2 linked regions of the Homo sapiens genome follow. The protein of the gene in region 1 purifies or fractionates together with the protein of each later gene. This does not show direct contact. Each region holds a gene or a part of one and is shown in the gene's direction. Other genes may lie near its edges. The genes, in order: NAT8L and FLNC.

Region 1 (3,802 bases):
TGCAGGGCCATGGAGGGATGCTTCTCACGAGGCGCTTCAGAAGCGAGCGAAGGGACAGAGAAGCCCTGCGTCCAAGGGCCTTTTGTCCTGTTAGCAATTGAGGTGTGCAGAGCACTGTACAGACCCCACTCCCCTGTACATTCCTCCCTGGAGGTGCCCGGTCCCCGCTTGGGGATGGGAGTTTTGTAGACTGTACAGAAATCGGCACCCTATTTTCTTGCAGCTCAGATTTTGTTAATCTGGAATATACAGACAGACGTAAAGTGTTTTAGCAAAATGGAAACAAACAGTTGTGCCTTTTTCCTCTTTTGGTTTGGTTTGGGTTTGGCCTGGGGCTGGTCCCAGTTGGTGCGGGGCATGCTGGGGGCAGGAGGGGCAGGGCGGGCCAGGTGGAGTCAGGTCTTGGGGGTGTCATGTCGGGGTGCTGCCAGCGTCCCTTGGTCCTGTGCCTTTGGAGCCTCGGGCTCCTGGGGTGCAGGGTGCTTGGGGGTGGCTGTTGGAGCCCACCGACGCCAGGGCAGGGCCTGGAGGCCCAGGGACTGCCAGTGTCTCCTTGATATTGATCCTAGCAGATCCCCCTCCTGGGGGTTCTGAGAGTCCTGGGCAGTGTGGCCTTCTCTCATTCTGGTGGCATCTGCGCCCGTGAGTGACCTCTTCCTTGGCTGCACTGCCCTGTGGGTGGTGAGACGCTTGGCCTTTTTTGTTGCTGCCAGGACTTGGTAGAGATGGCAGGAAGGGTGTGCGGGGTGGTTGTGTGCAGAACCCTGCCGCCCCTGAGGTGAGCAGAGGCACTGGTGTGCCTGCCAGGCTGGGGCGGAGCTGCCCGGAACCCTTGCCAGGCCAATGTGTAGCTTGGTGGCGCCCTTGAAGGCCACTGGGGGGTAGGTGTGTCCTCCCCCGGGGCTGGAGGCCGGGTGCCTGGTGGGTGGGCCTGACCTGGCCCACCTCATCCCTCCAGCCTGGGATCTCACTGCTCTGCACATGTGCACTGACGTGAATTTTATACGTTTGTAGAAACTCTGATGTAACTTCTTCTACCTCTGAAGCGCCCTCCTGGGCCCTGCTGTCACGTGGCTGGTGCGGCTTCCCCGAGTGCTGGCCCCCTGCCCGCTCCCCATGGGCACCCACCACTCAAACTCTGCGTGGTGAGGCCCGGGGAAAGCCAGGCCGGGCCCTAGCACTGCTCAGGGGCCTGGGGCTCCTGGGATTTCTGTGTGTTTGGAAGCCTCTGTTTTTGGAGTGGGGGGCGTGGAAGGCGGGAGGGGCTGACAGTGCCTGGGGCCAGAGCTGGGCGAAGGAGGACATCCTCACTGGACGAGCACTGCAGGCCTGACGAGAGGCTCCGGGCAGCTGAGGGCTGAAGCGCCTCGGGATGCCCCACACTGCCCAGAGCCACGGGTCTTGCTGTGCTGGGGGTGGGGTGGCCCCAGGCAGCTGCCACTGCCCAGGTGTGAGTCGCTGCAGACCTGGTCCCTGAGGGTGGGAGGCCTGCTTGTGCTGAAGCTGCCATGTGGTCTGGCCCCCAGAAGGGCTCCTGAGCGTAGGGAGTTGAGCCCCGCAGCCGTGGCGGCATCTCCTCCTCCTTCCTCCGCCCCATGCCCAGCCTTGCTTCCGGCTGGTGGCATGCCTTGGGGCCGGGCAGCAGGTGAGAAGCTGCCCCCGGAGGGAGGGGCCAAGGGCTGGGTCAGTCTGGCCTGAGGGGTGGATGGCTGGCCCTGGGGGAAGGCTGGGCCTGGGAGGCCCTGTGGACAGCAGGCCTGAGGCCACGAGGTCCTGGGGCCACCCCTCTCCTGCTCTGGGTGTCCTTCTCAGAGAAGATGGCAGAAGGCTGCAGGCCCTAGAGGGGACGACGGGCTGGGGACGCCCTGAGCTTCCTGGCTGTGTGGCAGGTGCTGGGGAAGCTCTCTGGGCCATAGGGACCTGGCTCCCCTCTGAGAGGCCCGCCTGCCCTGGGGCACCCAGGGCTGTGCTGGTGGCCTGAGGCTGGGAACTTGGGTTCCTGGGCTCTGCTGGCGCCTGGGCTTTGTGGGGGCCGAAGGTGGTTGCCCCGCCGGGCAGGGGGCTGTGTGGGCCCTCGTGGGGCCACCTTCCTGTCAGTGCCCGAGGGACGGTGGGACAGTTGCCCCTGCGCCAAGGGAGCCCACTGCCATCCCCCGTGGGCTGGCGCTGCAGTCGCGCACCCTGTGTTGCCTGCTGACTTGCTTATGTCTGTTTGGAAGCTGCTTCTGTTTGGCCACAGGCCTGTGTTCCTGGGCTGATGGCCACAGAGCTGACACTTGGGGTTTGAGTTCCAGACTTGCAGACCCTGGGATCCGCTTACTCCTCCGCGCCACGGCTGCTGTGCTTCCAGAGGTGGCGTGATGCCTCCCGGGGCCATGGTGGGGTGAAGGATGGCGAGCCGGACATACCATTGTTGGATGTATTTTTTTTAAAACAGCAATAATTAGCCATTTTAAAGGAGGGATGTACCTGTGTGTGTGCATGTGCACGTGTTTGAGCGTGTGTGTGTGTGCAAGTGGGTTCTTGGATATGTGTAGTGTGAGCATGTGTGCATGTGTGAGCCTGTGCACGTGCATGTTGTAGGTGCATAAGCATGTACACGCGTGAGCATGCATGTGTGTGTACACGTGTATAGGTGTACATGTGCATGAGTTGTGTACATGCGTGAGCACGTGTATAGATGTACGTGTGTGTGCGCATGTGTGCGTGTACATGTGTTTGTGTCTTGGGTATGCATAAGCATGCACGTGTGTATGAATGTGCGTGTGTATGCATGAGCACGTATGCATGTGTGATGCGCATGTTCTTGTGTACTTCTCTGAGGGGGCACATATGTATGAGTGTATGAGTGCATACATATGCATATGGTGTACGTGTGTGTACTTTGTGTGTGGGCATGTATGCGTATGAGTACTTGTGTGTGGCTGGTGTATGGGTGAGCATGCACATGTGTATGGATGCATATGTGAGCTGTACATGTAGAGTGTACATGTGTGTTGCATGAGCATGCATGCGTGCGAGTGCCTGTGTGTGTACTTGCATATATGTGGCTGTGCAGGTACCCGGCGGTGGTGGGCTGGCAGTGCCCGGGGAAGCAGGTCCTGCTCACGGCTTCCCTGCTGGGCCCCAGGCCCCGGGCTGAGCCTCCCTGGCCCCTCTTGCCCCTCAGTGGAGCAGGGCCTGGGTGGAGGGCCTGGGCAGCTCCAGGGCAGGTCCGGGGAGGCCAGGCTTGGGGAGCACAGGGGGTGGGGTTCACCTGCTGCTGTTTGTTCCCGAAACTGTACTGTGAGCCCACGGCGGGGGCAGATTGTTCTGAGGCCCCAGATGTGCCAAAACAGCCCCCAGGGTGGGGGCGAGCGAGTTCTGAGGAGAGGGGCTGCGGGGGCCGGGGGTGGGTGTGTGCCCCTCCCCTGAATGGCCCCCAATGCTGCTGTTTTTCAATAAAACCAGAGTTGAAGGCACCTGGCTCCCGTGCTCTCTTGAGGCGCTTCCTGCCCACTGTGTGGCAGGGCTGGCTTTCAGGGATGTGGCCCCACCCTTGGTTGCCCAGTTTGGCCCCCGCCGCCTCCCCCTTCTCCCCTGGCCACCCCCTTTCCCCACCTCGGCTCCCCTACACCTGGCCAGGCTGCCCTGCAGCCAGCACTGCCCCCTGGAGGGAGTGTAATCCAGGAGGTGGGGCAGGGGGGCTTGGTGGCCCCATGGGCTGAGGCCCCTCCCCCAGCAGGCACCCAGCCGGGTGGGCTTTGCCCATTCACTCTCAGGCCTGGGATCCCCCTGAGCAGCTCCTGGGCCCTGCCCTCCC
Region 2 (3,802 bases), on another chromosome or scaffold:
GTGTCCAGAAACTCAGACACAGTCCACTCCTCTTGGCGGCTCAGGCCAGCCTTGGGCCTTCTTGCACGCATCGTCTGCAGAACTCCCCTGCCCTCTGCAGACCCAGCTGCCCGGGCAGGTCATGTCTTCAAATATTGTATGACTTGGGACTGCTGAAATTGGAAATTTTTTCCCTTATCTAATTTCCCATCTTTTTATTATTTCAGCCACAGTGTCAGAAATACATTTCATTTTTGAAAACATTTTATTTTCACATTTTATTAATTTAGGAAGGCCTTCTCTTCCAGGCCTGGGACCCACATGAGTGAGGTTTGCCCAGCCTCAGTCTGCAGTCAAGTTCATTTATTCTTGTGTGTGTTTTCTTAGCAAGTTCCTAGCCATTTTCCCATGTTGGTCTGGCTTCCCTGTGGGCATTTCAAAGGCAGGGAAGGCCTCCTCCTCCGAGGCTCCTCAGCATCAGGGGGACCCATCAGGGCTGGTGGGCAGGGTCTAATGTCCTTCTCCTCACAGGGAGCCCGTTCCGCGTGCCAGTGAAGGATGTGGTGGACCCTGGGAAGGTGAAGTGCTCAGGGCCAGGGCTGGGGGCTGGTGTCAGGGCCCGGGTTCCTCAGACCTTCACAGTGGATTGCAGTCAAGCTGGCCGGGCGCCCCTGCAGGTGGCTGTGCTGGGCCCCACAGGTATAGAATGGCCGGGGCAGGGAGGAGGGAGGTGGGGCGGGACGCCCGGAGGCTCTGCTGACCCTGTGCCCCTTGCCCAGGTGTGGCCGAGCCTGTGGAGGTGCGGGACAATGGAGATGGCACCCACACTGTCCACTACACCCCAGCCACTGACGGGCCCTACACGGTAGCCGTCAAGTATGCTGACCAGGAGGTGCCACGCAGGTGAGGACCAGCCCTGGGCTCCTGTGCTGCGGCTGAGCTCTGGGGTGCTCCTGCTGGGGTGGCACTCAGGATCACTGCTGGAGTCCCCTGGGAGAGCCTCTCCCAGCTCTCAGCCTCGTCCAGTCTCGCCACCCCATCCCGCTCTTCCCCGGGGCTCTCTGCTGTGAGGCTTTCCTGCCCCAGGAGCTTTTACGGCAAACCTAGCGCCTTAGGAAGAGTGCAGGAGGCCTGGGCCAGGGCCTCCTCCTGGACCCTCCCACAGCACCTTCCTGGGGAATGGAGACGTACCCTGGCTCTGTCGAGGGAGTCCCAGAGTGCCCCCACCCCCAGACATGGAATGTCATCGGCTTCTGGGAACTGGTCCCTCCTCCCTGCCCCACAGTCCTCCCTCCTGCCCATGTCTATGGGGAGGACTCTGGCTCAAGATGAGATCACCCCCCACCGCCCCGTCCATGCCACCCAGCCAACTGTTTATCCCTTCTGCTCCTCAAGCCCCTTCAAGATCAAGGTCCTCCCAGCTCATGATGCCAGCAAGGTGCGGGCCAGCGGCCCAGGCCTCAACGCCTCTGGCATCCCTGCCAGCCTGCCTGTGGAGTTCACCATCGACGCACGGGACGCGGGCGAGGGGTTGCTCACTGTCCAGATCTTGGTGAGTCTCTGTGCATCCCACCCCGCAGGTCATGCTCCAGGCACAGGCGGGCCTTGACCTCTGCTTCTCCCTCAGGACCCCGAGGGTAAGCCCAAGAAGGCCAACATCCGGGACAATGGGGATGGCACGTACACTGTGTCCTACCTGCCGGACATGAGTGGCCGGTACACCATCACCATCAAGTATGGCGGTGATGAGATCCCCTACTCGCCCTTCCGCATCCATGCTCTGCCCACTGGGGATGCCAGCAAGTGCCTCGTCACAGGTGGGTGCCCACCCGCTGCCCGTGCCCTGCTCACCACCCAGCCCCTCAAAGCCCCTCCAGAACCCTGGCCTGGTCCCCAGGGGTCTGCTGGTCGGAGAGCACACATGCCCTAGCCCTGGCCCCTCCCTCCCTCACCCCCGCCCAATGCCCCAGCCCACGTTGAGCACCGCCTGGCCTCACACTCTTCTCTCTTTCCAGTGTCCATTGGAGGCCATGGCCTGGGTGAGTGCCCTTTCTCTCCTCTTCTTGGTGTGGGCCAGGGTGGTTGGCGGTAGGGGGCGGGCAGCGGGAACAGAGAGGGCTGGCTCCAGCCCACCAGCTCCCTGAGCAGGATCTCCCGCATGGCAGGTGCCTGCCTGGGCCCTCGAATCCAGATTGGGCAGGAGACGGTGATCACGGTGGATGCCAAGGCAGCCGGTGAGGGGAAGGTGACATGCACGGTGTCCACGCCGGATGGGGCAGAGCTCGATGTGGATGTGGTTGAGAACCATGACGGTACCTTTGACATCTACTACACAGCGCCCGAGCCGGGCAAGTACGTCATCACCATCCGCTTCGGGGGTGAGCACATCCCCAACAGCCCCTTCCACGTGCTGGTAAGTTCTGTAGCCACAGCAAGACTAGATGGCTGGGGAGGGGGGCCTGGCCCTTTTAGCAGCAGCAGGGATCCCAGATAACTGTCCCCAAGGAATCCCACTTCTCTGAGGGCTCCTGGGGCCAGAGTGCTCCAGGATGGAGCCTTAACTTTCCCCACAGCACCCCCGAAGTGGGAGGAGAGCATGGCCCTGCCCCCTGCCCAGTGCTGTCAGCTGTCTCTGGAGGAACCCGCTGTGCTCTCCACCATCCCCAGCTCCATCTCCCCAGAGGCTGCCCTGCAGGAGGATGAACACCCAAATTATCACCCAGCATTTCAGGTTCCTGGGCCATTCTCTGAGTCAGCCCCTAGGCCTGTGAGGCTGCCACACCCTGTGCCCCCGTGCCTTGCCTCCCCAGGCGTGTGACCCCCTGCCGCACGAGGAGGAGCCCTCTGAAGTGCCACAGCTGCGCCAGCCCTACGCTCCTCCCCGGCCCGGCGCCCGCCCCACACACTGGGTACTGCGCCTCCCACCAGGCGATGTCCTCCTCCTCCTCCCCTTCCTTCATTTCTTCTCTCTACTCCTCTGCAGCCAGGGCGGGGACATGGTCTGGGGGCCTCTTGGGGAGCAGGCAAGAGTTAGGCTGGGCAGATGGAACCCCACTTGGGCACAGCACTCCTTCTCTTGCAGCTGACGCACCTCTCCTGCCACGCTGGTTTCATGATTAACTACCTTGTTCTTTCCTCACTCTCCAGCTTCAGTCATAGCATGGGTCAAACTCCTGGGCCTTCCCCAGTCACTGACTGTTCCCTCTCACCTGCTGCAGGCCACAGAGGAGCCAGTGGTGCCTGTGGAGCCAATGGAGTCCATGCTGAGGCCCTTCAACCTGGTCATCCCCTTCGCGGTGCAGAAAGGGGAGCTCACAGGTACTGCCCTGTGGCTCCCAGGCATGAGGGCTGAGGGGAGAAACCCTCTTCCAGGCCCAGTCCTGTGTCTTAATGATGAAAACAAAGGCCCAGAGAGAGGAAGTGAGCTCTACCCAGGGTCACACAGCAAGTTGGGCAGAGCCAGAACTCAGGTGCAAGCCATCTGTCCCCAGTTCAGGGCTCAGGCCACTGCCACAGGCTGTCTCTTGATGCCTGGCTTCTCGGGTGGCAGCAGAAGCACTCAGGACCAGGCCTGGGACAGCAGGGAGGTTGCAGTGGGGGAAACCAGGGTCTCCACGTAACTGTGTCTGCCCTGCAGGAGAGGTGCGGATGCCCTCGGGGAAGACGGCACGGCCCAACATCACCGACAACAAGGACGGCACCATCACGGTGAGGTATGCACCCACTGAGAAAGGCCTGCACCAGATGGGGATCAAGTATGACGGCAACCACATCCCTGGTGAGTTAGGGGCTGGGCTGGGCTGGGGCTTGGGTGAGAGGAGCA

The links.
Region 2: the proteins of NAT8L (region 1) and FLNC purify together in Homo sapiens (affinity purification with mass spectrometry, with the first as the bait; one large-scale study listed by BioGRID). This does not show direct contact.

The regions. Positions count from the first base shown.
Region 1 is NC_000004.12:2,065,629-2,069,430, forward strand, and holds the end of NAT8L (N-acetylaspartate synthetase), read left to right. Parts: 3' UTR 1-3,461; downstream 3,462-3,802. UniProt on the Homo sapiens protein: Catalyzes the synthesis of N-acetylaspartate acid (NAA) from L-aspartate and acetyl-CoA. Promotes dopamine uptake by regulating TNF-alpha expression. Attenuates methamphetamine-induced inhibition of dopamine uptake.
Region 2 is NC_000007.14:128,847,187-128,850,988, forward strand, and holds part of FLNC (filamin-C), read left to right. Parts: intron 1-510; coding exon 511-678; intron 679-758; coding exon 759-882; intron 883-1,374; coding exon 1,375-1,531; intron 1,532-1,606; coding exon 1,607-1,796; intron 1,797-1,994; coding exon 1,995-2,018; intron 2,019-2,144; coding exon 2,145-2,392; intron 2,393-2,789; coding exon 2,790-2,888; intron 2,889-2,975; exon of another isoform or gene 2,976-3,197; coding exon 3,198-3,297; intron 3,298-3,616; coding exon 3,617-3,757; intron 3,758-3,802.